3 separate regions of the Homo sapiens genome follow, and all the other regions are linked to region 1. Evidence: fine-mapped expression QTL. A gene starts in region 1. Each other region holds a variant in brackets. All regions are shown on one strand. Distances are between the middles of the regions.

Region 1 (10,592 bases):
TGGTCTGTCTAAAATGTTTAGGTTAAAAACTTATGTTTACATATAGTATGAAAAATTTGTTTGCAAAAATGTTTTAAATAATATGCTAACACTGTATACTTTTAAGGCATGAACTTAGTTTTGAGTACAGGTTAAGTTCTTTTTATAGTCATTAAATGAAAATCATTCTCAATAGAGTTCTAGTAAATAACCTTCAAATGATATGTACTAAACTGCTCTATCTTCATATGTAATCAAGGAGTTTCCACAAAAATTTTCCTAACAGACAAATTCAAGAAGTACAGTCAACTTCGAATTATCTACAGTATGAAATTGCTGTCTATGGTCAGGAATAATAGACAACTTCCCCCAAGTGGCACAAAAGGTTAGATACAATATCACATACAATGAAAAAATTAAAGTGTAATTATTTAAGAGGTAACAAATTTTAAGTGAATGACAATATGATTTGTTGAAAAAGAGTATCACAAACTTCTGTATAAAGTCTTCATTTTATTTGGGATTGTGTTTTGTAAAATTAAACTCACTTTTGCATAGCACAAAACATTTTGTTATGAAAATTTTTGTCAGCTTTTATCTCGGCTATTTATCGTTTTAGCACAATCTGCTGGTTAAACTAGATAAACCTCAATACTCTCAGATCATCCAAGACTTCTCAAGTAAAATGTAAGCTTTCCAAGGAAAAGTTTTTTTTATGTAAATCTCAAATCCCTATGCCACCTAGACAACTATTACTCAGACACTGTCTGGAGTGAATTTTGTTAGCCATAATATTCTATGCCATTTTGACTTAAAAGTCATCAGAAAAATTAATCAAAATAACAAAACAGGTTGTAATATCAAGCTGATGCTTCACTGTTGATAAAAATATATTAATAGACTCACAGTTTAATACCATTGTATTATCTCTTGTAACATTTTTATAAACTTTGTTTTTTCCCATTGGTCTGTGTGACTCAATAAGTTTTACAAGCTTTAAATTAGGTATAAATCATGCAATAGATATCCCTTAGAACCCATTTTTGCCAGTTATGGCCATCATTAGAAAACAAAAATGAAATTTGCTCTCAGCACGGAAATGTTTAGGGATATAAATATTATTTTGGAATAGCTCTGCCAACCTGAATCATGCTTCTACCAGTCAGCTTTTAATCTAATAGCTAATGTAAAGCTCCAATCCTCTTATAATGTCTCACAGAAAGGTTCAGAATAAACTAGCAAATTCTTCAATTACAGGCCTTTACAGCATCATAGTAATGCTGCACATAAATTGTACCTTCAACTTTTCTACTACTTATTTTTCTCTTAGTCCCCAAGAGATTTCTGGCAGTCTTGGCCATTATTTAGGCTACCACATATAAAAACTTGGTCCTAAAGACACACAAGAAAAACTACCTTACACTAGGTATTTAAAACATATCTGTAGTAAAAGTACACTGATATGTCTAAAGAGTTTCCATAGGGATAAAAGTATATTTCAATGCATGAACAAGTAAAATGTCTCCAGCTCAGGGCCAATGTACATTTGCTGTATATAATGTGATGCATATTTTTGATACAAAAAATCAAAAGAAGTACCTGGTCCACCTTTATGGTACCATCAAACCTACTACTCAGTAAAAATATTTCAATGACTAACTCATAAGAGATAAGAACAAATCCCTTAGTCAATTAAATCATCTATTACATATATTTTATTTGCCATTAATATTATCCATTCTGACAAATTAGCAATTCAGACTAGCAAAATATTCAGATAAATTCAAAGTCCAAACTAAGTTATGATATATATACACCATATTTATGAGTTATTATAATATAGACATCTTGACTGAGTGTGGTGGCTCGTGCCTGTAATCCCAACACTTCGGGAAGCCTAGGCAGGAGGACTGTTTGAGTTCAGGAGTTCGAGACCAGCCTGGGTAACATGGCAAAACCTCGTCTCTACAAAAAAATACAAAAATTAGCCTAGCATAGTGACATGTGCCTGTAGGCCCAGCTACTCCAGAGGCTGAAGTGGAAGGATCACCTGAGTCAGGGGAGGTTGAGGCTGCAGTGAGTTGTGCTCAAACCACTGCACTCCAGTCCGAGTGACACAGTGAGACCCAGTCTCAAAAAAAAAAAAAAAAACCCAAAACAAAAAAAAATACAGATGCGCCTTACTTTATAATAAATATATTCCTAGGAGACTAAATTGTAAATTGAACTTTAATAAATCAAATTTTAGAAATGCATCAATCTATACGAAATTGTTTTTAAAAATCATATTTTATCAGTTTTGTCATTTTCACATATCTTGCTTCTTTAAAGTAAGATTCACTTACAGTGTTATGTCTGCAGTCAGAACTGCTAGATTTTTAACTATCCTGAAATTATTAGGTTTGTGCAAAAGCAATCATAATTTTTGCCATTACTTTTAACCACGATTACTTTTGCACCAACCTATATGTAAATATATAAATATGTGAAATAAAACCCAATTACTTTATGTTGTTTATTTAAGCAAAAAAATCAAACATACTTCTTTTTTTTTCCTTTCTTCTTCTTTTCTCTTCTTTTCCTCTCTGATTTGGGCCAGTCGCTGCTTCTTACGTTCCAACTCAGCCTTTAATTCACTTTTGTCTGACATGTTTGTGACCTTAGAAACATATAATCATTATGTTAGTAAAAGCAGCACAGTTGAAAAAACTAGTGTTCCAAGAAGAGAACTGTCCCGAAAGGCCATATAGTTCAATGCTATCTCAAAAAAGCACAAAAACCTTACTTTTAAAATAATGGGGCTGGGCAGTAGCTTACTTTGGGAGGCTAAAGTGGGAGAACTGCTTCAGGCCATGAGTTTGAGACCAGCCTGGGCAACAAAGCAAGACCCCATCTCTACAAAAAAAAAAAAAAAAAAAAAAAAGGCAAGAAAAATAAAAAATTAGGCGGCATGGTGGCATGTGCCTGTAGTCCCAACTACTTGGAAGGATTGCTGGAGCCCAGGAAGTCAAGGCTGCAGTGAGCCGTGATCATGCCACTGCACTCCAGCTTGGGCAACAGAGCGTCTCTAAAAAATAAACTTTTAAAAGATAAAATAAAGGAAGCATATATATTATTACTAAGACTTAAAAAATGTATAAACAAATATATATAATAAATATTACCTAGAGCTGAGCATAGTAGCTAGCCCATAGTAAGCACTTTAATGTTCGCATACACAAACTGAACACAATGTCTCAAAGTTTTTGATGACAATATATTAGGTACCCAAGATAAAGGTCAAAACTGGCTCTTAAAACAGAGGACATGGTTTGGCATTTAGAAGCTCTTAAGCTATATGACACAGATCAAAACTATTACCAATTCTATTGCATTCATAGAAACTTGATAAAAAACAATAGGTCAAACTGAACTTTCCTGTAAGTTCTAAAAGTGCTGTAGTAATACTAAAGCAAAACGCAGGAGTTACCATCATTAGCTATCAAATCATATGACTGTATTTCTCCACAATAACACCTTACGTATACCTCTGATGGCACTTTTAGTACAATTATTTGTGGACATACCTGAAATGTTCCCTATTAGATTGTAATGTACTTGAAATCAGGGACTGTTTTTTAGTTATTTTTGTTGCCTTCACAACATCCAGCAGAATGACCTTAACATTACAATTGACACTGGCTAATGAATAATGGATACGGTAGACACAATTACAATCTGAGCTTCAAAAACCAATTGCATAAACACTACTTCAGCTTGAGTTTTAGGAAGAAATAATGAATTAGGATTTTTTTTTTTTAAGTAGCCTAGCAGCTGAGCATAAGGCAGGAGCCAGGAACTCCTTACCTTCTCCACATGATTGACTTATTGCCTAATGATCAATCTCTTTCAATGTCTCTGTACAAGTGAAGTATTAAATGCTTTAGATCAAGAAAACTAGGAGAATAACCTCTGGAAAACTGTATTTCCAGAGGTTAGGGGAAATCTCTTAAAAAGCACAATTGTTAAATCTGAACAAAGGTAAGTCAGTCAAGAGGAGAAATTCACCTACTAAGAAGTGGATAAAGGAAATTTCAGCTACTAAACTCCATTAAGACTGGCAAGCGAATTGATAATTTTCAAGCATACGAAAAGGATGAAAAGTTGACATAGCAGACCTGAAATATATACACAATATCTTCCAAGATTTGTTTGAACAAACTAAAAGCAAGAGACCGTGTTTCTTATTCCACTCTTTCTACACCTCTAAACAGCTCCATACAAACGGCTGGTGAAGAGAACTTCCATACGTAACTGTATGCTACGCTAGGCACATTATATTTTGTTCAACGTCAACTGTAAAACAGATATACCAACACTAATTGATATTAAAATAAGCGCATTTTTAAAGCCCAACAACAAAGTCTTGACCAGCTGAACTACAGCTGACCAATCCTCTCATCCTCACAGAAGCCAGAGCCTTCCTCCATGACCGACATGTTCACGTTCTTAAAACTCAAGAGAAGAGAGTCTCTAGAGTTTTGTGCTAGAACCTCCGTGTTCGGGGGCTTTCCATCACACATAAGGTGAGGGGAGACACTATCAAGGCAAGTAGAGATGGCCTTAATTTGTAAAATGGGGCAAGGCGAAAACGAATCACTTTCTCCCCTGGGGTCACGGCCAAGAGGGCGCGGTCCACGGCAGGGCGTCCGGAAGAAGCCAGTGGGCGCCGGACAAGCCTCAAGGCTCCCCAGGCCGCCTCTGGAGGGTCGAGAAGGGAAAGGAGTGGACTCCTCTCGCCGGGCCGCAATGAGTCACCGCACCCAGGTCTCCCCGCCTTTCCTCCCCAAAGCTGGGCCGGGCGGGGATGTCAGCAGGAACTGCCAAGCCGCCCTTCGAGTTGCGACGTGGAACACAGGCAGGGAGGCCTTGAGGGAAGAACAGTCAACCCACCTGTCAGGTGACTGGATGGGGAAGAGTCCTCCCGCCTGCAACTTCCCGGTAACGTCCCTCGCCTAAGCCCCCAACACCAACTGTAGCCACCACCAGCTCCGCGGCTTTCCAAAGCACACAAAGAGGGATGGGCGGCGGCTGCTACGGCGAGAGCTTAGGGACAAATAGCCTCACCAGAACGAGGTCGCTCCCAGAAATAAAAGGTGGGGCCCTGCTGCGAGGAATTGTAGCCCCTCCGTGACTTACCTGTCGTAAAGCAGAAGCCGGTAGATAAAACAAAGAACCCAGTCAACCCAGGGGCCTTAAGTATTTCCGCTTTGCCAAAAACTGGAAAACTACGCCTAATATTCTCAGGCCAGGAATCCAACTTCCGCCCTCGCCTTACAAACTGACACGATCGAGAAGAACTACAAACCCCGGCAACAAGGAAAACCTGCGTGCGACGAGCAGTGCGTTCTGGGAATTGTGGTCGCTGGGCGTCGCAAGGTGTGCTGGGACATGTAGTGTGTCCCCTCCTTTAGATTTCCCACTCCAAGGCCTTCTTCCGTCGAGAAGCTTCTGTATAAAGTATTCTCGTCTGTTGATCCGTGCCCACAGTGTAGTATGTGTTATAGTGTAAGATCTTTGACCCAATATTGGCGGAATTTTAAGGTCTATTTTCCAGTGGTGAACCTGTGAATCACGCTGCTGCACATTTGGTGAAGACGTGAAGTAGACTGTTTAGGATGTAAAACATTATATATATATATGTACATACATATGTAAGTTTTAGGGAAAGAATGTCTTATATAGGCTTCATGTGGCATCTTAGGCAAAATCTAAATAAAAATATGTCAACTGACATAGCAAATAATTCTTTAGTATTTTGTTGCAGTGTGGTAGCATTTTGGTTTTCTCTCAAACAATTTTAGGAAATAAAGCATTTTGTATTATTGGACTCTCAAACCAAGCTAGAATGTTTTCCACAGTTAGATTTTTAACATACAAAGAAAACAAAAGTTACTGGAACATGAATTTACCTGCAATGTATACATTGACACACCTTTTTAAAGTTTAAATAATTTAAAGCATTATTTGGCAGGAGTTAAAGCTAACACCAAGGTAATATCTTTTCTATGTTCTAGAAAACTGATTGTTCTAGAAGTTCTAGATATTGCCCAAGTCTAGAATGAACCTTTATGATTCAAATTCCAAGTCCTTGGGCTTGTGGTCTTTTTCTTATCTTTCTCTGCCTTATCTGTGGTCTTTTGTGTAGAAAAAAATATTCTAAAAATAAATTTGAGAAAGAAAATCCTTGGCTTTCCACAGCTTTTCCCAATAACCTAACATTCAAAGAGCTTTATAGCTATGTTATTTTTTTACTTCTTTCCTAATAGTTTTCATGTATTAATTTGAAAAAAAATTATTATTGATTGCCTACCATGTGCCAGCAATGGTGATGGGTGTTGTGGTAACAGCTAAAATGGACCAGGCGCAGTGGCTCACACCTGTAATCCCAGCACTTTGGGAGGCCGAGGCAGGCAGATCACCTGAGCTCAGGACTTAGAGACCAGCCTGGGCAACATGGTGAAACCCCGTCTCTACAAAAAATAGAAAAATTAGCAGGGTGTGTGGCATGCGCCTGTAGTCCTAGCTAGTCACGAGGCTGAGGCAGGAGGATGGCTTGCGCCCAGGAGGCGGAGGTTATAGTGAGCTGAGATTACACAATTGCATTCCAGCCTGGGAGACAGAGCAAGACCCTGCCTCAAAAAAAAAAAAAAGAAAAAGAAACAAAAAAAACAAAAAACATAAAAATGCACAAAAATGCACATCCTTCTTCTCAAGGGAGAAAGGACACTCGCTCAACTAAGAATGGATGGTTCCTGACTGATGGTTTAACTTATGATTTTTTTCTCATTACAATGGGCTTATTAGAGTAAAATGCATTTTCAACATATATTTTTGACTTAAAATGGGTTTATCAGGACATAACTCAAGGAGCATCTGTATAATGATGGAATTATATAAGGAAGTCATAGAAACACCTGGAAAAACTTTTCAGGAAACTTTTGGAAGGAGGTGATTCTAGAGCTAAGTCTTTGATTCTCAAAGGTTGAGTAGAAGAAGTTAGCCAAGCAGAGAAGATGCAGAAAGGTGCCTTGGGAAGAGAAAAGAATATGGACAAAGGACAGAGGTGTGAGAGCATAGAATGCTGGTGAATTTGGAAATAATTCACAATGGCCGTAGGCTAAGACAGGAACTGGGGAATGAAGCCATAAGCAGGGGCAAAGTCGCACATCCCAGTTTAGATTTAGTCCTACAGATGATGTGAATCCACTGGTAGATTTTAAGAGGGTGCAAGGTATGAGAAGGTTTGCATTTTAGATGACTGGCCTTTCAAAGTAGTCCGGAGAAAGACTAATGTGCTGGTTATTTTCTTTGCCCCCCAGATTCATTTCCTGCCCTTCTTTGCTAAGCTCTATGCCTCTGAGGGTTGACCTCAGTTTCTTTAAGGACTGCTTTGTGGTTGGACATAAAGAAGGCCAAGGCAAGGATATCAGAAGGTGGGTAGAAAGGGAAATTGGGGCATCTCTTCCTTGCTCCTTCCTTCTTTGAGTGTCAGATGTCCAGCAATAGCTTCATTCCTTCATGACTACAGTACCTGCCAGATGGCTCTTTCACCATGGCTCTAGTTTTCCCCGGGCTGTCTGGTGATTTTATGTTCTCCTTTTATCTCTTGAACACCTCCTCTGTAGCTAGTCTCTGAGTGCCTCATCATCTCGTTTGTTCCCTTAATACCCGCTCACCCCTCTGTAACTTGTCCTTTCATTAAAGTATTTTCATGTGAACTATCTTGTGAATTCTGTTTCTTGTTGAGACCCTTGTTGATACAGCTTGCCTAGAGGGATGAGAGGTGGAGAAAGAGGTAAGGTAGAGACTGGAAGCAGGGAATGCAACTGGAAGAATTTGGGTAGAGCCAGCAATTATAAATGCATGAACTGATGCATCATCAGTGAGAATTAAGAAAAGTAGATGGATTGGAGAAATGTTAACATTATGTGAGACTTCTACAGCAATAAAGCAGACTAGATACCTCTTCCCACTGAAAACCACTCAATATACTGGCTGGATAATGTAGCTTTTGAGTGGGTACAGTGGCTCATGCCTATAATCCCAGCACTTTGGGAGGCCAAGGTGGGAGGATCACTTGAGCCCAGGAGTTCGAGACCAGCCTGGGCAAGATGGCAAAACCCCATTTCTGTAAAAAATTTTAAAATTAGCTAAATATGATGGTACTCACCTGTAGGCCCAGCGACTTGGGAGGCTAAGGGCGGGAGGTTTGCTTGAATCCAGGAATTTGAGGCTGCAGTGAACTATAATCACACCATTGCACTCCAGCCTGGGTGACAGAGTGACATCCTATTGCTTAAATAAATAAATAAAATTTAAAAAAATGTTTTAAGATATGAAATACGTAACTAAAAAACCCCCCACTTTTTTGTTGTTTTATTTTTAACACTTTTTTGAAGAAATGCATTAGCAGCACTGATTAGAAAGACTGTACCCTGGACATTACATAGTTCAAACCACTATGTCTTCCTACTTTTTAAGTTGGAAGGGCTGGGGAGGAGTCCTAATAAGCATTAGTGCTGCAGGGTGTTTTCGAAGGGGAGAATTTGCATTTTAAAACTTCTTATAATGGTTTGTAGGAGAGGGTAGAAATATAATATATACAGATGAATTTGTTGAACAAACTCATATCTGGATTTACACTTGAATTCAATATGCCAATGTTTGCAAAATTTTAATACAATTAATATATTGACATAATGCAGGATTTCATTTATATAGAATGCAAAAGAAGGTAAAACTAATCTAATGAAATGTCAGAATAGTGGCTATTGAGGTATAGGGATATTGATGGCAAGGGATATGGGGAGGTTTCTGCGGTGCTGGGAATGTTTCATTTCTTCATCTGGTGGGGGTTACACACATTTACATATCTGTAAAACATTCATTGACCTCTACTCTTAACATGGGTCCTTTTTATTGTATGTATGTTATATTCAAAAAATAGTTAAGAAAAAAGTAGCTATTAAACCATGGGACTTAAACAAATGTATAAAACATCAAAAAGATGTAGCAGACACCAAATTGGAAGAGGAAGGAATTTGAAGGGGTTAAAAATGTATTCTGCTACCCAGCAGTTCAGGCATCTCAAAATATTCCAGGAACTCTAGTAAGTCCCAAGTAATCAGCTAGAACATTTATAGCCATTTGTTGACAACCTTGTTATATACATCCTCATCATACAAGTTTTTAATGAAATTATGTTGTGAAAAGAAAGCTGTGGCCCCATAGCAATGCATGAAGCTTTCTAGTAATTATATTTTTAATGCTCTTGCGTAAATGTCACTTGATTGGTTTATAACTTTGCTAAAATGACATGTATAAAATCTAATACATACATTTGTGTGACCTTCTTACCATGCAAAGAACATTTTCCAGGACCTTTTCATAAATATTGGATTGTTATTATTTTTTCCACATTTTAATCAGAGGTCCTCTAAGATTTCACTTTGGTTAAGTTCATGAGGTTTCTACCAGATTGCCTGTGGAATCTTGAGATTGTTCATTCTTCACATGTTAACAGCTCTTCCTGAGTCACTTGTGTTTTTAATTTTTTTCTAAATATTTCCACTTCACCTTCAGTAAATGTATTTGACTCTTAGAAACATTGGCATGAGAAAATATTTTCTTCCAACTTTGGAAACTCTCTTAACTTTCCCATTTGCTCTCATGTCTAAGAGAAGCTCTTTAGGAAACTATCTTCACTCAGGGGAGTGTTCATGAGCTGACCAGCAGGTCTCTGATAATTTAACAGCATTACTTTTCTATTATCCTTATTATTGTTCTAGTCTGTATTTTTCCCTTTGGAGTGTTTGCTGCATTGTTAACTTAATATAGGTTTTTTTTTTCATTATTTCCTCTACTTGTCTTGATGCACATATTTTCTCTGTTAGTGTCAAAATAAGGTGATGGTGAATTATGAGTCCCTTCTGAGCCTAGAATACTTTTGTAATCTGGTAACCTTTGGCATGAAGCACATATCCTAGTGAATGATGGAGCACTTAAGAGTGATTCGCCACTGAGCATTACAGAAAATAGGCTGAGGGGCTCAAAAATTCAAGGCAAGTTCCTTCTACTCAGCATGGTGTATATACTGCACTCTCACTTTCCTACCCCCTATTATGTGGTTAAGAGAGAGGAGATAATGATGGCTTCTTAAAGTTACTGATAATGCACTCAAAAAAACTCTGTTAGGTGTAATGGTTTTAAAAGGTAGAATGAAAACACAGCTAGGAGATCAACACAAAAGGAATCATTTTCTGTTAGAGACAGTGAGCCTGTGCCCTTGATAACACACACGCAGCTCCCATTAACTATAACAGGAATTATGAGTGCCCCGTTAAAGGAGCGTATACCCCCAAAATGTGGTAGGGGCATACACTTTCTTCACCAGAGTTTCTTGTATTGATTTAGTTTCTTATGGTAGAATAAAATATTGTATTATATTTTTAATTCCTCTTGACTATTCAATATATCATCTTTTGAATGTGGGAGTGTAAAATAAAAATTGCTAATTGGCAGGTAGAATATATTTAAACAACCACAAACCCTATGTAAAGCCCAAACCAGAC
Region 2 (10,592 bases), 360 kb before region 1:
AATAGTGTCAACTGAATTCTAGATACAGCATGCCCTAGGTATATTGCTGGATGTCTTTCTTTCCTTTTTTCTTTTCAATGGGCCATTGAAAGTTATTGCCACACAAGCAAACCATTGGGATGAAATAGCTCAGAGCTTTGACCAAAATTGTAGTATCAATATCAAAAACAAATAAGACAAAAAACAAAAAACCCTACATCTTAAACTTCCTGAGAAGATTTTCACTGTACATCTCTAAGTGAAAGGCATGGGATAGAAAGAAAACATTTGAATATCAATCTTATCGTGGTATTTTGACAACTGTAGGAGTTTTGTCTCTGCCCTGTAACCAGTCAATAGGAGTGGTAAATCGGTAGGTAGATAGGTCAATAATTACTACCTAAAATGAGAAAGCTAATGCTTCAGGAAAACAATATATTTCCAAGCTTCTGCAGTTGAGAGTACACAGATTCAAGACAACAGAAGCCAAGATCACTCATCAAGGAGTTATTTTCAACCAGAAAAATAAAGAGAAAGTATACAGTAACCTCTTTAGTAAAAGCAAAAGCTCCAAATTTTCTGAAGGCAGCTTTTTGGACTGGTATAGTTATGTTGCCCAAATAATTTTACACTCAATTCTACTAGGTATACCTGGTTGACCATATGAATACTCACTCGACAGTTTTTGGTATTAATTCAAAAAGTACAAAGTGTTAAAATGGCACAGGCTTAAAAGGGGAGCTCCATAGATGCCTGCTTACAATTTGGCCCATATATATGTGTATGTGTGTGTATATGTATATAAGTAAACATAAATATAAATATGTATATAAGTAAATATATGTATATAAGTAAACATAAATATAAATAAACATTTATTTAAATATATATACTTATATATTTAAGGATATGAATGTTCAACTATCTGTTACTTTTTGTACTAAAGATTAAAAATTAAGCCAGGCTGACGCCTATAAACCCAGCACTTTGGGAGACTAAGGCCTGTGAATCGCTTGAGTCCAGGAATTTGAGACCAGCCTGGGAAACATGGTGAAACCTTGTTTCTACAAAAAATACAAACATTAGCCAGGCATGGTGGCACACAACTGTAGTCCCAGCTACTTGGGAGGTTGGGGTGGGAAGACCGTTTGAGCCCAGGAGGCAGAGGTTGCAGTGAGCCAAGATTGCGCTGCTGCACTTCAGCCTAGGCAACAGAGCGAAACCCTGCCTTAAAAAAGTTAAAATAAAATAAAAATTTAAAAACGTTAAAAATTAAAACCACCCCAACCACCAAAAAAACATGTACTCTTTATCTGTATATAGCAGGCTGCTTGCTTCTCATATCTGAAAACACATTACTTGAAAACCTTAGCCAACACCAAGATTATTCACACAGTAAAATGACAAATTCATCATCTCATATTTAAAGTTTTTAATATTGCCACAATACCAAAATATTTGATGTGTAAAACATTTGAAACATATTTATTGTCTGAGGGGATGGGACACTTTTTGAAGTATGCTTCTACTGGAGTGTTACAAAGAAACCTCAACTCTTCAATGCCTAATAAGGTATAGTCAATTTGGGGGTAAAAAAGAAGGAAACAGTGTGAAATTTAAAATTTTATATTTTGCTTGTGAATGCACCATGAGAATTTCCTCCAAAAGATATGCCTTCCTATTTATATTCACTTGAGCTCTTGTTTAAATTGGTTTTCCTTCTCTGAGTACTATTGGTTTACTTAAACAAGTTAGTTAAATTCTTTAAGCCTTAGTTTCTTCATTTGTTAATGTGGATAATAATACCTTCCTCACAGGGTTGCTATGATAATTGTATGACATGATATATCGAAAGTGGCATAAGGTAAGCACTCAATAAATGGTAATTACTATCATTGGTTACCTGACTGTGGGAGGAGGTCACTCTAAAATGGACTAATCAGTAGGTAGAAACCAGCCTGAATTTTAAAATGTGCCTTGGATAATCCACAAAGCAAGTAATTCACAAAGTAATCATGAGATCCTAGGTTGGGTCCCAGAGCTGCTACTTAAAAGTGACACCATCCAAAGCACTGGGCCTCTCCTCACTCCATCACAGGGCCAACCTGAACCCCAAATGAGACTGCAGATGTAGAAACACTTTACAAACTGGACAGCATTTCATGATTGTAGTGTATGAGAGAAGGCTCACACTCAGTAGGATGAATTACGGACAGCCTAATTTTGATGTTTTCCTGAGAGTTCCTGCTGGGCCCTTGCTAGTATGCTGATGGTTAATGGTGAGGTCTAAGGAAAATTCCTTCCTACATCCATAAAAGGCCCTGGCTTTTTTCAAGAATCATATCTTTCTAAACATATAAGAATACTTCTTAAATTTGTGCAAAGGGTGGGATGGGAGAAATTATGTTATAGGAAGATTCTACTTTGCATTGAAGACATTCCCTGTAAAGTGTACTATCACAAACAATTTTAAGAGTTAGATCAGAATGCTGCTATTTTGGCTGAGCGCAGTGGCTCACGCCTATAATCTGAGCACTTTGGGAGGCCGAGGTGTGCGGATCCTTTGAGCTCAGGAGTTCAAGGCCAGCCTGGGGCAACATGGTGAAACCGCATCTCTATGAAAAATACAAAAATTAGCCAGGCGTGGTGGCATGCTCCTGTAGTCCCAGCTACTCAGAAGACTGAGGTGGGAGGATGACTTGAGCCCAGGAGGCTGAGGCTGTAGTGAGTGGAGATTGCACCACTGCATTCCAGCCTGGGCAACAAAGTGAGACCCTGTCTCAAAAAAAAAAAAGAATTCAGCCTTTTTTATTCTGTTACTAAATACCATTCAGTCAATGCTGTGCTTAGCCATAAACTTTAACGTTGCCCTTGGTAACCTCAGTTTGTAAGAATTTAAACCTATTTGTCTTGGTGCACAATCTGTTTAGCAGAAATATTTCAGAGCTCAACAAACCTTATTGTTTAAATGTATCAAGAAGTCTTCTTTGCATAAAAATTCCTGTTTATTAAACAGTGATACAGGAAGAACTTATTTACATTTCAAGCACTACCAACATACATCACTTATGACAAAAAAGGCAAGCACTCCATAAGAAATGCTCAATCACTGTCAATCACAAACACTAAAATATACATAAACCAAAGCACGCCGTGTGAACTGTATTAAATTCAGCTAAACACAGAATTACCAACAGAACAAACAAAAAAACAAATAATTACCAGTGACTCACAGACCTATTTACACAATACACAAAATAACTTGGAAAGGTGTAACCATGGAAACCTGATAGCCTAAATTCAGTACCTTTAAATTTTGCATTTATTTAATCACTGTGCAAATGATGTCCTTACAAAATTTAAATATTTTTAAAGCTGTCAAAGCTTATCTTTGTTATTAGATCATTGATTGAAATAGTTTCAGCTATAAATTAGTTATCTTTAAAATTATGCGGAGACCGTTTAATGAAACTATGATAAAAATGTCAAACAAATTTTTCTAATTTTGTCAGAAAACTATTATTTCACAACCACTGATTAACTGAAAAACTCAACTATTTACAGTAAGTCCCATAATAGTCAAGTAATATTAACAGACACTTTCACATAAAGACTTTTCTTAAATTAATACTGTTGCATGCAACCACCTCCACTTCCTCTAATTAACTACTAAAGCAGAAATGCTACTAGTTGTTTTGGTTTAAAAGTTGTTTTTACTGACAATTACCATTTGAAGAGTTTAATATTTAATGCTATAGTTAGTCCTAATATCTTATATTTTATTTCATAATCTAAATGACTAAAACATTATTTTGTAGTTCACTGCCTCCCACACTTAAGCTGTAATGTTCAGTGTGTATTTCATTATGTAGATGAGCAATGGATGTTGTCTGACATGATTTAAATGGGTCAACAGTATTTTCCTAGTCACATTAATCATCCAGACAGCTAAAATGAAAAAAAAAGTCCTTGAAAACTAAAACTAGAGAATCTATTCACACAAATGACACTTTCCATCAGTGGATTATCTAGGATGTGGTTAAGGAGAAGGAAGAGTTACAGACTTTGAACATATGTTTCATCATTTATTCAGAAACCACTTCAAGACCCTAGCTCTATTTTCAGAATCGAAGTAAACACTCACAGAAAGAGATTTCTGAGATACCAAAGTGTAATTAAAAAAAATAAAAAGCATTACATGGCAATCTTTGAAACTTTTTTGATTCCAGAAAAAAAAAATAAAATTTGGGAAGCCCAGCTCTAAATGAGGCTGAGCCCCAAGAGTAGGGTCAGGCTTATCGTATGTATAAAAATACACAGCAGCATAGGTGCACCAAAATCTCACAAATCACCACTAAAGAATTCCGTCATATATATATATATATATATATATATATATATATATATATATA[TACACACACAC/C]ACACACACACACATATATACATATACATACACATATATACATATATACACACATATATACATATATACACATATATATACACACACACACACACACACACACACACACACATATATATGAATGATCCTTTTTTTTTTTTTTTTTTTCCTGAGACGGAGTTTCACTCTTGTTGCCCAGGCTGGAGTGCAATGGCACAATCTCGGCTCACCGCAACCTCCACCTCCCAGGCTCAAGTGATTCTCCTGCCTCAGCCTACCGAGTAGCTGGGATTAGAGGCGTGCGCCACCACGCCCGGCTAATTTTATATTTTTTAGTAGAGACGGGGTTTCTCCATGTTGGTCAGGCTGGTCTTGAACTCCCAACCTCAAGTGATCTGCCCGCCTCGGCCTCTCAAAGTGCTGGGATTACAGGGGTGAGCCACCGCGCCCGGCTTATATAGGATCCTTTTTAGTGGTTTTGGAGCATTCCCTTATACGAAGGGATCACATAGTACCTTATTTAAACAATGATGAGCATTTTGGTAGGTCCTTTTTGTTTTGGTTTGATTTTTTTGCTTTATATAATGTGTTTTTTACAAGTACAGTTGCACAAGTGATGACTTCTTTTTAGTTTAAATGTGTAAAAGTAGTATTTGTGGGTTAAGAAATATGCAAACTTTAACATATTTGCAAAACTGTTCACAAACACTGCAACTTGTCTTCCTAATGATGCCTATTTCCTATACCTTTACCAACAGTTTAATGTTAAAATCTGTTAGTCTGATAAATGAAAAACTGTATCTCACTTTTACTTATTTTTCTTCAGATACTCCTGAGGTTAAAGATATTTTCCTTTGTTTATTTCTGTATCCTCTTTTGTGAAGTCTCCTATTAGGTCTCTTGGGTTGTTTTTCACCTGATTTATTTATTTATTTATTTTTTTTGAGATAAAGTCTCGTTCTGTCACCCAGGCTGGAGTGCAGTGGCATGACCTCCATCATCCAGGTTCAAGAATTCTCCTGCCTCAGCTTCCCAAGTAACTGGGATTACAGGCATGTGCCACCACGACCAGCTAATTTTGTATTTTAAGTAGAAATGGGGTTTCGCCATGTTGACCAGGCTGGTCTCGAACTCCTGACTTCAAGTGATCCACCCTCCTCGGCTTCCCAAATTGCTGGGATTATAGGCGTGAGCCACCACGCCCAGCCTCTTCACCTGACTTATTTTATTTTTATTTTTTAGACAGAGTCTCGCTCTATCACCAAGCTGGAGTGCAGTGGCACGATCTCGGCTCACTGCCACCTCTGCCTCCCAGGTTCAAGCGATTCTCCTGCCTCAGCCTCCTAAGTAGCTGGGATTACAGGTGCATGCCACCACGCCCAGCTAGGTTTTTTGTTTGTTTTGGGTTTTTTTTTTTTTTTTTTTTTTGTATTTTTAAGAGAGACAGGGTTTCACCATGTTTGCCAGGATGGTCTTGATCTCATGACCTCGTGATCCACCTGCCTCGGCCTCCCAAAGTGCTGAGATTACAGGTGTGAGCCACCGTGCCCAGCCCACCTGACTTATTTTTAAGAGTATTCTGTGAATTACAAATATTAAATGTGTGTACTACACTGTTTCAACTATCTTTTCAGCTTGCTTTTTGTATTTCCACCATATTTAAAGTGTTTTTGGCCACAAAATTGGGTTTACATTGAATTTATGGATTAATCTAAGGACAATATGACTATAATTTTTTGGGGGGACAGGGTCTTGCTCTGTCACCCAGACGAAGTGCAGTGGTGCAATCATAGCCCACTGCAGTTTTAACTTCCTGGGCTCAAGCAATCCTCCTGCCTCAGCCTCCCAAGTAGCTGGGACTACAGGCACATGCCACCATGCCCAATATTTTTTTTTATTTTGCAGAGACAGGGTCTCACTATGTTGCCCAGGCTAGTCTCAAACTCCTGGATTCAAGTGATCCTCCTGCCTTGGTCTCCCACAGTGCTGGAATTACAGGCGTGAGCCACCATGTCCAGTTGACTCTAAAATATTTAACGTCTTCTTTAAGATAAGAAATGCCTTCACATTTCCTACAGTGTTCTTAAATGTCCATCACTGGAGATCTAATGTTTTCTCCATACAGGCCTTGTACATTTCTTGTTATTTGTCTATCCTTGGTTTTTTTTAACTCCTTGGTTGCTACAATAAATGAAATTTTTATAATGGAATATAATGCTATTAAATATAAATAAAATAATTTTTGTAAAACATTAAACGTACTTTTCTTTAAAAAACTTAAGTTTTAAAAATTGAAGTATAATAGTCTAATGTCATATTTTTATGTTCTTTCATGTATCAAAAATCAAACATACATGCAGACTCACACACTTTCTCCATTGGAGGTTAGTGAGTCGTGACCAAGTGGGGTTGACTTTGCTTTCCATCACTGCCAACTCACCCCTCTCTTACCTTTCCTCTCCCCAAATATTATCCTCCTTCCTTCCAAATATGGAGTGCCTGACTGGATAAACTAACAGGTGTTGGAAGTGCAAACCAAGTGAAGTTCCAATAAAAGAATACTATTTTTTTTGTAAGGATCTGATATTTAAAATATTTCTCATAGCTGGGTGCCTATAATCCCAGCTACTTGGGAGGCTGAGATGGGAAGATTGCTTGAGCTCAGGAGTTTGAGACCAGCCTGGGGAACAAAGTGAGATCCTGTATCCCAAAAAATATATATATATATATATATATGTATGTAAATATATGTACACACACACGTATATATATACACATATATGTGTACACGTGTACACATATACACATATATGTGTACACATACACATATATGTGTACACACGCACACATATGTATGCACATGTACGCATATATATACACAGGTACGCATACGTGTATACACATGTACGCATATATGTATACATATGTACACATACACATATATGTACATATTTACACACATACACATATATGTACATATATACACACACACGTATATGTGTACATATACACACACACGTATATGTGTACATATACACACACACACGTATATGTGTACATATACACACACACGTATATGTGTACATATACACACACACACGTATATGTGTACACATATACACACACACACGTATATGTGTACACATATACACATACACACGTATATGTGTACACATATACACATACACACATATGTATATGTGTACACATACACACATATATGTATATATGTGCACATGTACACATACACACATATATGTATATATGTGCACATGTACACATACACACATATATGTATATATGTACACATGTACACATACATATGTATATATGTATATATGTACACATGTACACACACATATGTATATATGTATATATGTACGCATGTACACATACATATGTATATATGTACACATGTACACATACATATGTATATATGTATATATGTATATATGTACACATGTACACATACATATGTATATATGTATATATGTACACATGTACACATACATATGTATATATGTATATATGTACACATGTACACATACATATGTATATATGTATATATGTATATGTGTACACATGTACACATACATATGTATATGTGTACACATGTACACATACATATGTATATGTGTACACATGTACACATACATATGTATATGTGTACACATGTACACATACATATGTATATATACATATATTTTTTAAAATGAAAAAATATATATTTCTGGCCAGGCACAGTGGCTTATGCCTGTAATCCCAGCACTTTGGAAGGCCGAGGCAGGTAGATCACTTGTGGGCAGGAGTTCAAGACAAGCCTGGCTAACATGGTGAAACCCCATCTCTACTAAAAATACAAAAATTAGCTGGGCATAGTGGTGGGCACCTGTAATCCCAGCTACTGGGGAGGCTGAGGCAGGAGAATTGCTTGAATGTGGGAGGCGGAGGTTGCAGTGAGTTGACATGGCATCACTGCACTCCAGCCTGGGAAACAGAGTAAGACTCCATCTTAAAAAAAAAAAAAACTATATATATATTAGGTCATTTCTTTTGGGGGATGAAATATATATATATATATATATATATATATATATATATATATAAAATAATTAGAGTAAGGAAATTAAAACGTTTTTATATTCTTATTCTGTATTTACTTATTTAAAGCTTAGTTTTGTTTGGTTTTGAATTATGTATCTGGCTTGAGTTGGGGGCAACCAGTCTTCAGTGTTAGGGGTCCTGTCTCTAACAAAACAATATAGATCTACATGATCTTTTTTAGTTGTTTCATGAATTCCTTTACGGACAGGTCACACAACACCTTATTTAACCAATGATGAGCATTTAAGTGGATTCTTTTTTTTTTTTTTTGATACAGAGTCTTGCGCTGTCACCCAGGCTGGAGTGCAGTGGCACGATATCGGCTCACTGAAACCTCCGCCTCCTGGATTCAAGCGATTCTTATGCCTCAGCCTCCCACGTAGCTGGGACTATAGGTGCACACCACCACGCCCAGCTAATTTTTGTATTTTTAGTAGAGACAGGGATTCACCATATTGGCCAGGCTGGTCTTGAACTCCTGACCTCATGGTCCACCCACCTCGTCCTCCCCAAGTGCTGCGATTACAGGAATGAGCCACCGCATCCAGCCTTAAGTGGGTTTTTTGTTTGTTTGTTTTTGCTTTATATAATATGCTTTTGGGGGGCCTCAGACTCCTTCAGTTCTTGTATACTGTGGCTATCAGGTACAAGAGGGCCTGAATGGGCCAGGTGTGGTGGCTCACGCCTGTAATCCCAGCACTTTGGGAGGCCGAGGCGGGCGGATCACAAGGTCAAGAGATTGAGACCATCCTGGCCATCATGGTGAAACTAAAAATACACAAGTTAGCCGGGCGTCTCTACTAAAAATACACAAGTTAGCCGGGCGTGGTGGTGTGCGCCTGTAATCCCAGCTACTCAGGAGGCTGAGGCAGGAAAATTGCTTGAACCCGGGAGGCAGAGGCTGCAGTGAGCCGAGGTTGTGCCACTGCACTCTAACCTGGGAGAGAGAGCGAGACTCCATCTCAAAAAAAAAAAAAAAAAAGAGGGCCTGAATGTATCAAAGCAAATAGCACAATCGATTACGATATTTCCCCTAGTCTTGTAACAGTAAAAGAGATCAAAAACTTTGAACAAAAATAAACTTAAAACAAATCTGCCACTCCGCTGAACAAGGACTCTGTATATCTCTAGTTCCTAAAACGCTGTGTATTTAGTTTGATCTCCCCCTGGGAGTAGCAGTATGTCTTAAAATTTTCGAAGAGAGTGTGGGGAATCCTCTCACTATTGCTCCCTTGGGGCAAATGCTCTCCTGATGTAGTTTCCTCCACATGTTTCAGAATACTACTTCCGACTCCACCTACTAGTCTGGAAGAAAATCACTATGCCATATAGTTGACAGAAAAAAACGGACTTTTTAATATTTTTAAATATAGGTAAAAGTAGAGAAAGGGGTAAAATGAAATCCTTAAAGTTAAGCTATAATCCTGGTTTAACTGAAATCCTTAAAACTTTTCTCACTAATAAAAAGTTTTCGGCCGGGCGCAGTGGCTCACGCCTGTAATCCCAGCACTTTGGGAGGCTGAGGTGGGTGGATCACGAGGTCAGGAGTTCGAGACCAGCCTGGCCAACATGGTGAAACCCCGTCTCTACTGAAAATACAAAAATTAGCCGGGCGTGATGGCGAGCGCCTGTAATCCCAGCTACTCAGGAGGCTGAGGCAGAAGAATCGCTTGAACCCGGCAGGCAGTTGCACTCCAGCCTGGGCGACAGGGCGAGACTCTGTCTCAAAACAAAATAAAACAAAAAAAAGTTTTGGCTGGGTGCAGTGGCTCACGCCTGTAATCCCAGCACTCTGAGAGGCCAAGGTGGGCAGATCACGAGGTCAGGAGTTCGAGACCAGCCTGGCCAACATGGCGAAATCCCGCCTCTACTAAAAATATAAAAATTAGCTGGGACTAATTACTGGTGGTGGGTGCCTGTAATCCCAGCTACTCAGGAGGCTGAGGCAGGAGAATTGCTTTAGAACCCGGGAGGCGGAGGTTGCAGTGAGCTGAGATGGAGCCCCTGCACTCCAGCCTGGGCGATAGAGCGAGAGTTCATCTCAAAAAAAAACAAAAAAAAGTTTTAAAGGTATTTGCTCCATCACCCCCACCCCACAAAAAACTCAC
Region 3 (10,592 bases), 43 kb before region 1:
CTTATGGTTGAGCGTTCCTAATATGAAATGTGAAATGCTTCAATGAACATTTCCTTTGAGTGTCACATTAGTGGTCAAAAAGTTTTGAATTCTGGAGCATTTCAGACTTTGAATTTTCAGATTAGGGTGCTCAGCCTGTCTTAAAAATAGTTGAGTTCAATAAAGTAATGAAAACAAGTCAATGAACCAGAACTATGTGACTGAATTATAAATCTCTGGCTAGGCGAAGATTAGTGGCTAGCTGTAGAAGTAGATTGCTTTAAACTAAATTTGAGGCTGTGCCAAATTGAGATTCCCAGGGATTTTTATCATAGAAAGAGAGAAAAGGAAGAAATCTTGTTTTGCTATCAGGGCAGAGCCAGATCTTAAGGACACAAAAGTACAGCAATATCTCACGATTCAGTCTTCCAATTTATGAGGACTCAATTCCTGGAGTCAAAGAGCACTTAAAAAGTAGAGGAAGAGAAGCAAAACATTTAAAGTCTGTTAAATTCATGAGTGTGAAGACTCTGGTTTAAAAGTTTAAAATGAAATTGGAACAAGGTGTTTAAAGAGAGATTATTTAAAAACACTGCCTATTATTCTTTACCATTCATTATTAATTAACATTGCCCATCAGTCATTATTACAGCATAGAGGCTCTATCAGTTTTTCAGCAGGGCAGAAATAAATACCAGCAACACAATTAACCAGGAAGTGTAAATTGACACTGGAGCCACAGTATGGCCAAATATAAAAGTATTCACTTAACAGACTGTTTCTTCTCTACCCTTCACAGAGTAGAACTACTTGTGTGCAGAAAAGTTAGAATGAAGGGTAATTCTTCTGATAAAGTTTCAGAGGGTCCTTAGGCATTTATAAAAACACCATGTTCTATGGTGGCCCATCCTTTGTACAGTAACACTGGAGGGATGTTGGGGGCAGGGTGAGAGGCATGTATCCCAATTGAATGAATAAATGAGTCTTCTATATAAGGCCCAAGGAAGGAAGCAATGCCTAGCCTAATTGGCAAAGAAAGAGATATGCCCACTTGTCATTCTTATTCAGAAGGCACTTCTATGTTGAAACACATTAAAATACAAGAATAAAAATATCAACCGCCCCTCAACTAGCTGTGTAGTACCACAAAAGCAAGTATCAATCAGTCTGCTATCACAAGATAAGTTCTGTCCTTGATTAGTCAAGATGAACTCTTTATTTTCAAATCCTATTATTAACGTATATAAGGATGGAAGCCTCAAATTTAAAGCCAAAGGATGCTGGCAAACTGACACCCTGAGAGAGTAAAAAACAAACTAGAAATAGATAAAAGATTCTTTCACACACAGACTGGGAACAGAATAGGGAACCCAGAAATAAGACCGCACACCTACAATCATCATCTTTGACAAACCTGACAAAAAAACAAGCAATGGGGAATAGATTCCCTGTTTAACAATGGTGCTGGGAGAACTGGCTAGCCATATGTAGAAAACTGAAACTAGACCCCTTCCTTACATCTTATACAAAAATTAACTCAAGATGGATTAAAGACTTAAATGTAAAACCCCAAACTACAAAAAACTTAGAAGAAAACCTAGACAATACCATTCAGTACATAGCCATGGGCAAAAATTTCATGATGAAGAGGCCCAAAGCAATTGCAACAAAAGCAAAATTTGACGAATGGGATCCAATTAAAGAGCTTCTACACAGCAAAAAACAAAAACAAAAAAACCCCTAAAAAACAAAAAAAACTATTGAGTAAACAGACAACTTACAGAAAGGGAGAAAAATTCTACAATCTATGAATCTGACGAAGATCTAATATCCGGCATCTATAAGGAACTTAAATTTACAAGAAAACAACCCCATTAGAAAGAGGGCAAAGGACATGAACAAACATTTCTCAAAAGAAGACATATATCACTGATCATTAGAGAAATGCAAATCAAAACCACAATGAGATACCATCTCACACCAGTCAGAATGACTATTATTAAAAAGCAAAAAAAAAAAAAAAAAAAAAAAAAAAAAAGATGCTGGCAAGGTTGTGGAGAAAAAGGAACGTTTTTACACTGTTGGTGGGAGTATCAACCATTATGGAAGACAGTGTGGTGATTCCTCAAAGACCCAGAGACAGACATACCTTTTGACCAGGCAATCCCATTACTGGGTATATACCCAAAGGAGTATCAATCACTCTATTATAAAGACACTAGCAAAGACATGGAATCAGCCTAAATGCCAATTAATGGTAGATGGGATAAAGAAAATGTGGTACATATACACCACAGAATACTACGAAGCCATAAGAAGGAATGAGATCATGTCCTATGTGGGGACACTGATGAAGCTGGAGGCCATTATCCTTAGCAAACCAATGCAGGAACAGAAAACCAAATACCACATGTTCTCACTTATAAATGGGAGCTAAACAATGAACATACATGTAGACACATAGAGGAGAACAACTCATACTGGGGCCTATCGAAGGGTGAGCGTGGGAGGAGGGAGAGGCTCAGGAAAAATAACTAATGGATAGTAGGCTTAATACCTGGGTGATACAATAATCTGCATAACAAACCCACACATCCTTTACCTGTACCTTCGAATGTAAAATAAAAGTTTTAAAAAAAAGATTACTTTCAATTACCGAAAAGGAAGTTGGCCAACAATCTAACAAAAATGTGTCTCCTGTGACTATACATGGGATTACTAAGATGAAAGCACATCTAAAAATCTAGCAACTTACATGGCTGTATGAAGCCTTTGGAGAAATAGTTGGCTTCATCTCACCAATTCTGCATCTTGCTTTGGTTTTATAGGTTTATCTGAAATACTTGGAACCAGAAGCATTTGAGATTTTGGACTTTTTCAGATTTTAGAATACAGTAAGTCCTCACTTAACATCATTTATAGGTTCTTGGAAACTGTGACGTTAAGCAAAACAACATAAAACAAAACCAGTTTTACCACAGGCTAATTGATACAAACAAGAGTTAAATCCCTGTGGCATTTATCTGGTGATAAAAACATCATCAAATTTCTAAATAATGACCCTAAACACTTCAAATATTAAGCACTGAAATAAAATGTGAGCTATACATACAATTTAGAAAGATTATCATTACTTTTTCAGGTGGAGTTTTGCTCGTCACCCAGGCTGTAGTGCAATGGCACAATCTCGGCTTGCTGCAACCTCCTGCTGGGTTCAAGTGATTCTCCTGCCTCAGCCTCCCGAGTAGCTAGGAATACAGGTGCCCGCTACCATGCCCAGCTCATTTTTGTATTTTCAGTGAGACGGGGTTTCACCATGTTGGCTGGGCTGGTCTCAAACTCCTGACCTCAGGTGATCCACCCGCCTTGGACTCCCAAAGCGCTGAGATTACAGGCGTAAGCCACCCTGCCCGGTCACATTTGAGAAAGAATCATAAAAACAAGATAATTATTAACCCAATTTTTGGTGAAGAGGTGGTGGGTTAAATCAAGGAATAAATGTTTTGCAAAGTGAAAATTGTAAGGAGCACACCCTATCACCAGGCAGTTCTAAAACAATGACAAAGACGGAAGGCTCACTGAGCGGTTTCATACTGCATCCTTTAACTGTCTTGCCTTTGTATGATTACTATGTATCTTACAAATTTTTATTTTACGACAATTTGTATTCATTCATTCATTTTCCAACTTGCTTTTCCCAGTTCAAGGTCACAGCTGGTCAGAGCACAAGACAAGAACCCACCATGGACAGGATGCTATTCTATCGCAGGGCACACTCAGACACACCCACACTCATTCAGACTGGGACAATTTAGACATGCCAGTTGAGCAATCCTCCCACCTCAGCCTCCCAAGTAGCTAGGACCACAGGTGCGCACCACCATGCATGGCTAATTTTTAAATTTTTTGTAAACATGGGGTCTCCTTGTGTTACCCAAACTGGTCTTGAACTCCTGGGCTCAAGTAATCCTTCTGCCTCGGCCTCCTAAAGCACTGGGATTACAGGAGTGAGCCACTGAGCCCGGCCAATGTTTTTTCTTGTCAATTTTATGACAAAACACACTATTTGATGACCTGCTGTATTTGTGTTATACTTATGGTTATACATCTCTAATCCAAAAATCCATGCTCCAATGAATGTTTCCTTTGAGTGTCATGCCTGCGCTCAAAGAGTTTTGAATTCTGGAGCATTACAGATTAGGGATGCTCAGCCTGTGCTAGCTAGATTACGCATTTCTTTGCTTGTGAGCTTTGAGAATCTTCTTCTACCTTTTCCCACTGTATAAATTTCACTAGAAGAATAAAAATTCAAGAACAATCCAAGAAAGGAAAGAGATGACTTATTAAATGTATTCAGGCTCTGTCCGATCCCCATTAAGAGGTAAAAGAGAAACTAAACATTGGTAAGTGCCTATTATTTGCTGGACACTGTGTTAAGCATCTGTTTCCTTTATTAGAGTTCAGGTAAACACTATTTTTATATCTGCTAATGACAAACCTGAAAATGCTCAATTTTAAAAGGCAAGCTTTTAGAGGCAAAGTTTTCTAACCTGTTTCATTATCAGACAGAAAGGAGGCATCAAGAAAGGACAAGAATGAATAATGAGTTCATCCCAGACTTCTAAGGCCAACACTTGATAAATAACTAGGAGTTCACTAAAATAGTGAAGAACATCTCTTACATTAGGTTTTCTTACAGAAACTGAAGAACCAAAGATCTCTAAACTTTGTCTCATGATGAATTATTTAAAAAGTCAATATTTAGGATAAGGCAGATAGAAACAGAAAAAAAAACACCTTAGAATTTAATTTAAATAGAATCAGATGCTGGGTATGCATTTTCTCAGCAATAATGTTAATACCGCAGAAAAACTAGACAGCAAAGTTAAGGCACTTTAATTATAAAATGAGATTAAATGAAATTACAAGTCTATCACAGGAGGTAATGTTGCCTACTTGGATTTGTCTTGAGACTTTCAACAGGTCAAGACAATGTCACATTTATCTGGAATTGCTGGAGGATCAAGAATCATTTTATCACATGAATGGGTTTTTAAAATACTGAAGTTTATTAAAACCAAAATAAATGATTTAAACTGCTTATCATAGAATAACAAAAAATATATGCATCCATGCTTTTACACAATGCTTTCCTAAGGATTCCAGTTTACTACATATAGCCATATTATACAGGACTTATTGTAAATCAGTTTCTCTCTCTCTTTTCCCTATTTCCCATCAACTCTGTGAGCCACTGTAGTTATGAATAACCTGTTAAAAACTCTCCAAAGAGCAAATGCATAGCTTTTGTGCTGAGCTGAATGACAACTGTATGAGGTGCTATGCGAGATACTCA[G/C]GGCTTTTTTCCCAGTGCAGTTCAGGGTAAACAGTTACATGCTCGAAAAGACTGAAGTGGTGGGAAGACTGGTCCTTGATTCTGCGTAGGGTTACCATACTTGTTAGCATATTTTTATAAAAATTACAACATCTAGTAGTTCACTCATGCTCTGTGTAACTTCCTAGCAGGCTTCATCTATTAGCAAACAATTATGATTTAAAAGGTTTTCATCATTCCTATGTAGTATTAGATCACCACCTTGTGTCAGAAACCTGAGCAAATAGCAGACATCTATATTTTAGATACCTTAGTTGTCCAAAGCTTTACTGTCCAGTCAAACGATGAAGTGACAAAAAGATGTGAGAAGTCTACTGCTCCAACAGCTGCATGACAATGGATGCCAGTGATTGGTCCTTGATGCCCCTCAAACATCTCACTGATTCCAGCTTTGCTAATTTCATAAAAGTGAAAATGTTAGAGAAGTCTCCTATAAGTAGACCAATTACATACACATTTTATTATAGGTTTATATATCAGGCCTTGACTTCATTTTGACAGACTTAACTCTGTGCTCATAACTTATCAGAATTAACTTTGTTGAGTGTTATTCCATCCACATTTGGTAACTCTACTAAAGCAATAAGTACCTTTGGAACTGTAAACATCATGCTGTTGACAACAGACCTCAAAAGTCCAATATCTGAAGTGGTGTAATAGAAACAAAGATACCCTACATTTAAGAGAGACAATCTGGGCTACTTTTAAAACAAAAGCTTTGAAGTGAAGGTGATCTATATTTGAGATGAAATCTGGACACTCAATTTTTTTTTAAGGAAGCAATAAGGTACAGCTAGACAATTTCAAAACAGACAGAACGGAAGGAGAAATATTACTCAGTTTAAAATATGTATGTGACATTACTGTACAATTATCAGGAGAATGAACTAATGCTTAAAGTCCAAATAAATCAAAAGGGGAAACAGCTGAAAATCTCATTTATAAGTCTATAGGTCAATATTGGCATGTGCATATTGTATTTGTAACTACTGAATGTTCCTGCCTATCACTAACTTACGTGAGTACATGCACACACACAAAACCACAACCCACAAAATCTAAACACATCATGAATCCAAAATTATCTTTTATACAAAAAGGTATTAAGTTTTAATTTTATGTGCCTGAACACAAAAAATCTGTCACAAATAACAAGTAGATCTACGACAGATTTCTACTTAAATAAGACAATTTGTTTCAATGGGATTAAAGGAGGAATTTTAAATTATTGCAAATTCCAGTTTAGGTTTACCTGCCATGGCGGCATGCTGTGTACACAGAACCTTCTTCACTCCCAACAACAAAGTTGTTGACATCTCCAACAGGGAAGGACATAGATGTCACAGCTACTGCTTTTGACTGTTTATGAACCAACTCCATGCTATCCTACATAGAAAAACCTGAGAAAATTAGTTTGTAAACTTGCAATTTTAAATTTCTGTAGAAAAACTTCTAGTCTTTGATTGTAAACAATTCTTTTATTATTTACATAAATCTAAATTAAATGAAGCAGGTTTCAAAGTAAAATATATATATATGAAACAAACTTATATTAAACACGTTTCAGCTTATAAGCTGTTGTAACACTACTATAAAACAGTTTATGAGAAACATAAGTTGAGGTACACATACACTTAAAACATAACATTTGCCTCAAAATTTCAGTTTCCCAAGTTTAACCCACCTGTGGATGGGAAAGCATGTCCAGACTCCATGAACAAATTTTTCCATCAGTAGAGATGCTAATCAGATTGTGAGCATTTTGTGTTCCAACAACATTTACACAATATACAGGGTGCTAGAGATATTAAAAAAAGTTTTCAGGGATTATTGTACCAAAAAGCAAAACAAAATTTTTAGTCTAATTATAAGCATTCTGTTTATTATCGAGTCTCATAACTTGTGGGTATTCTTAATGTGAAGTTTGCTATTAACAAAATGTTGTCGCAGAAGAGAGATGAGTTTCTAATAAATCTCCAAAAAAAAAAATAGCCTTCATTCTTGGTTGCTAAATGGTGAGGAATTCATACACCAAAGGAAGCACATTCTGAGATGACTCTGATGGCCACTACTAAGTATTATAGCTAAGGATGAAGGAGCACAGAAGCCTAATGGAAATAACCTTATTTACTTACTGTGTGTGCAGCTGCTGACAGTGGAGTTCTTTGCACTGGAGTTCTTTTATTGCTACGGTTATCCCAAAGCACAATTTGGCCTGAATATGTACCACCAACAACAAGATTTGGATGAAATTTTGCAAATGTGGCAGACATCACAGCTGACTGCAAATAAGTAAGATTTTTATACTTGAGATTCAAATGGAAAATGCCTGACAAGTTCTAAAAATCAATCTATTATCCGAAACATTTCTTTCTTCATTGTATGGTATTAGAGGTTATAAAAACAACTAAGTAAATTAATTAAAAGTTTTCACTGTTTCAGAAATATAAAAATATATCTTTAAGATATTTTTTGCTTAAAAGTCCAATGCAATGGCTGTTTACTATTAAGTAGGTTTAACTAATTTATCAAAGAAAGCAAAAAGTTATTTCAGTTAACTACAGTATTAAAAAGATAACTAGCCCTGCATTAGACTCTGACAGTAATCTAACAGTAGAGTACACGCTAGTTTAATTCAAGTTAAGTGTTTACTCAAGATTAAGACACTATTAAAAGATTTTAAATTATGCAATCAGAAAAGGCTTGCAAATTCTAACCTTCTACTAAATCTGCTTTAAAAATCTGCATCTGTTTTCTACTTCAACCATATGTTTCTACTTAAAACCATCTAGTTCCAATTCCTCAGGCCATGTATAAGTAATTCAGTGGGCCAACCATCTAATTGTATATTCACAAATAAGTTCCTGGGAAACTCCCTGTAGGAAAGACATTTTATAAAAGATTCCTTTTATACAGTCAATCACCATAACAGAAAATCACAACTGCAAAGGACTTTAGGTGTGATTAAACATTATAAGAGATGTCAGAAAAGCTACAAAAGGCAGATCATGTTGAACTGAGAAGTCTTCAGTTTTCTGTTAACATCTGTTTGCAAATATGGAGTGGTTTAGTAAAATGCCAATCCAATGAAATCATTATGTTGACAAGAAAAGAAAAAAGGCACTTGTCTTAATTCATCAATGAATTCTTAAACTTGAGGCGAAGACTGTTAAAAGACCACCATACCTGGCAGTGAAACACATACTCTGGGGTAGTTTTTTTGTATTTCATATTCCATACAAGGGCCACACCATCAGGCTCATGAGGGGCATCTTCATTGTTGTTATAGGAAGCCACGAGTAACTCCGGATACTGCTCAGAAGAATCAAGAAGAAAAGAAATGCTATGCATAATAAGAACTGTTTTATAATCCTAGTTATTTGTCTTTATCAGATTATTATTCTGCAAATACAAATACCTAACATTTCATCAAGAGAGACATCTCTAGCATTATGCCTACTGGGACATTAGTACAATTTTAAATTAGAACAGTTAATTATTTTAAATGTTTTAATGTTAAAACATTTAATTAAAATATGTGTCCAAATTTTACACAAAGGATTTGGTGAGCAACTGAAATTAGTAAAACTGGCCTGTATCATAAAGTCCTGAATTTTAAATATAAATAATGCTTCTAATCTTTCTTCCAAAGTACATAAGATGAGTATGTTAACATTAGAACCATCATCCATTAATTTTAAATAACACATATTGATTTATTATACAAAATTCCCATAATTAAAATAAAATGACCTGCTAATTATAATTTTAAAAATGAGTTAAGAGCGGCCTATTTTGTTATATTTTACCTGAGATGACCAATCCAAACAACTAACCACCCGATGCTTTGACCAACGTTCGTCAAAAAATTGTCGATTTAATGACAGTTTAGCACCTGCTTGAATCTCTCTACAAAAAAAGACCAAACCCCCCAAAAAGATGGTGTTATAACTTTTATCACTCTTAATCTTAAAGTAATTTAACATTATTGAAGCTAAAAATCTTAGCAACTAAACATTACCCTTCTTTGTCTTCCAAATCTCTCCCACTATAGTCAAAGAAGATGTTAATCTGCTCAGAAAGAGCTCTTTCTACAATTCTTGTAGAATGGTCAAAGAAACTTAAAAATTCCTCAGAGTGCAAGATTTGTTGCTTTTCTTCTTCAGTCAGCTCATGAGGGGGAGCTGGAAAATAAATAATTTTTTGAAGTATGATTTATGTCAGGCAAATCACGTCAACTCACTATCACAGTATGGATCAATGTATGTTATTATTTTTCAATCAGATTCACTTATTTGATTTACAGCATTTCATCCTACTTTAATACATAATAAAAGGAATCTTAACAGAAATCAACAAAATGTTTTAAAGTTTAATTCCTTAAGATACCTTTACTATCATTTTCCTCATCTTTCTTTAAAGTTTTCTCTTCTTCAGGTTCAATAGGTGGTTTAGGAGCCACTACATCATCATCTTCCTCTTCATCTGAAAAAAAAAAAAAAAACAAACAAAAAAACAAAAAAACAGAATGATATAATAAATTATTTTAATGAAAATAGCTGGTAACTTTTGAGACAGTATTTCAGAAGGTATCACAACTCCCAAGATATAAGCAAAAGTAAACCACTGACCGGACAGAACAAGTACAAATAATAGGGATTTTTATCAACATAATCAAATAGTTAAGTGGAACCTCTTGGTTTTTATACATACCTATGTGGTACCTCAGCAACAGCCACCCTAAATTCTGTAGCTACATAAACTGAAATAAGATATATAAGCAACTAGGATGAATTCCTCATTAAGTCTCTAAAAGCTTGCAAGCATTTATCATTCTAGACAGAACAACATGCAACTCCTGCATAGTTTTATATAGCATGCTGACACATTAATGCTGTAGAATGAGGAAAATCAAATGTCTAAAATAGCCTACAGAGCTGGCTGCTTACTTGTGATCTGAAACCATCAGTGTCTAATGGGCCTTCATAAGGCATAAAGATGGCTTACATTAACTCTCAGGTTGCTATTTGAGAGGCAGATTTTGAAGATAATAGCTATAAGACCACATTTTCTATTCTGTCATTTTAAATGCAAGTCTCATTATCTATTGTTACATGATGTGGCAATAAGCACTTAAAATAATGTTTTCTTAATTTGAATAAAAGTATACATTGGGATAATATACAATGTTTACAAGACTTCTAAAAAATTACTAAAT

Alleles and levels. Alleles are on the strand shown, and positions count from the first base shown. SD is a standard deviation of normalised expression in the study named. Not every link is listed here.
For the expression in monocytes after triphosphate RNA of the gene that starts at base 5,316 in region 1, allele C in region 2 goes with a higher level than allele TACACACACAC (large effect, 2.2 SD a copy in Kim-Hellmuth 2017).

What was found. PIP is the estimated chance that this variant, and not a neighbour inherited with it, causes the effect.
Region 2: its variant is fine-mapped to the expression of DYNC1I2 in monocytes after triphosphate RNA (Kim-Hellmuth 2017, PIP 0.95).
Region 3: its variant is fine-mapped to the expression of DYNC1I2 in blood mononuclear cells (TOPMed, PIP 0.94).

Annotation. Positions count from the first base shown.
Region 1 is chr2:171,682,193-171,692,784 of GRCh38, reverse strand. DYNC1I2 (dynein cytoplasmic 1 intermediate chain 2) reads right to left here and starts at 5,316. Exons shown (of 18, transcript NM_001378.3): 1 at 5,158-5,316; 2 at 2,522-2,638; 3 at 1-8. The coding sequence starts at 2,629. RefSeq lists an enhancer at 5,146-5,315.
Region 2 is chr2:172,039,621-172,050,212 of GRCh38, reverse strand. All of the region lies in intron 1 of METAP1D (methionyl aminopeptidase type 1D, mitochondrial), which reads right to left. Among named protein-coding and RNA genes, the nearest start is that of DLX1, 41 kb to the left of the region's middle. The variant TACACACACAC/C (reference allele first, on the strand shown) is at 4,392.
Region 3 is chr2:171,724,885-171,735,476 of GRCh38, reverse strand. It overlaps DYNC1I2 (dynein cytoplasmic 1 intermediate chain 2), which reads right to left. Exons shown (of 18, transcript NM_001378.3): 8 at 9,764-9,859; 9 at 9,396-9,558; 10 at 9,184-9,283; 11 at 8,561-8,686; 12 at 7,510-7,656; 13 at 7,059-7,172; 14 at 6,627-6,760; 15 at 5,624-5,768. Among named protein-coding and RNA genes, the nearest start is that of DYNC1I2, 43 kb to the right of the region's middle. The variant G/C (reference allele first, on the strand shown) is at 5,336.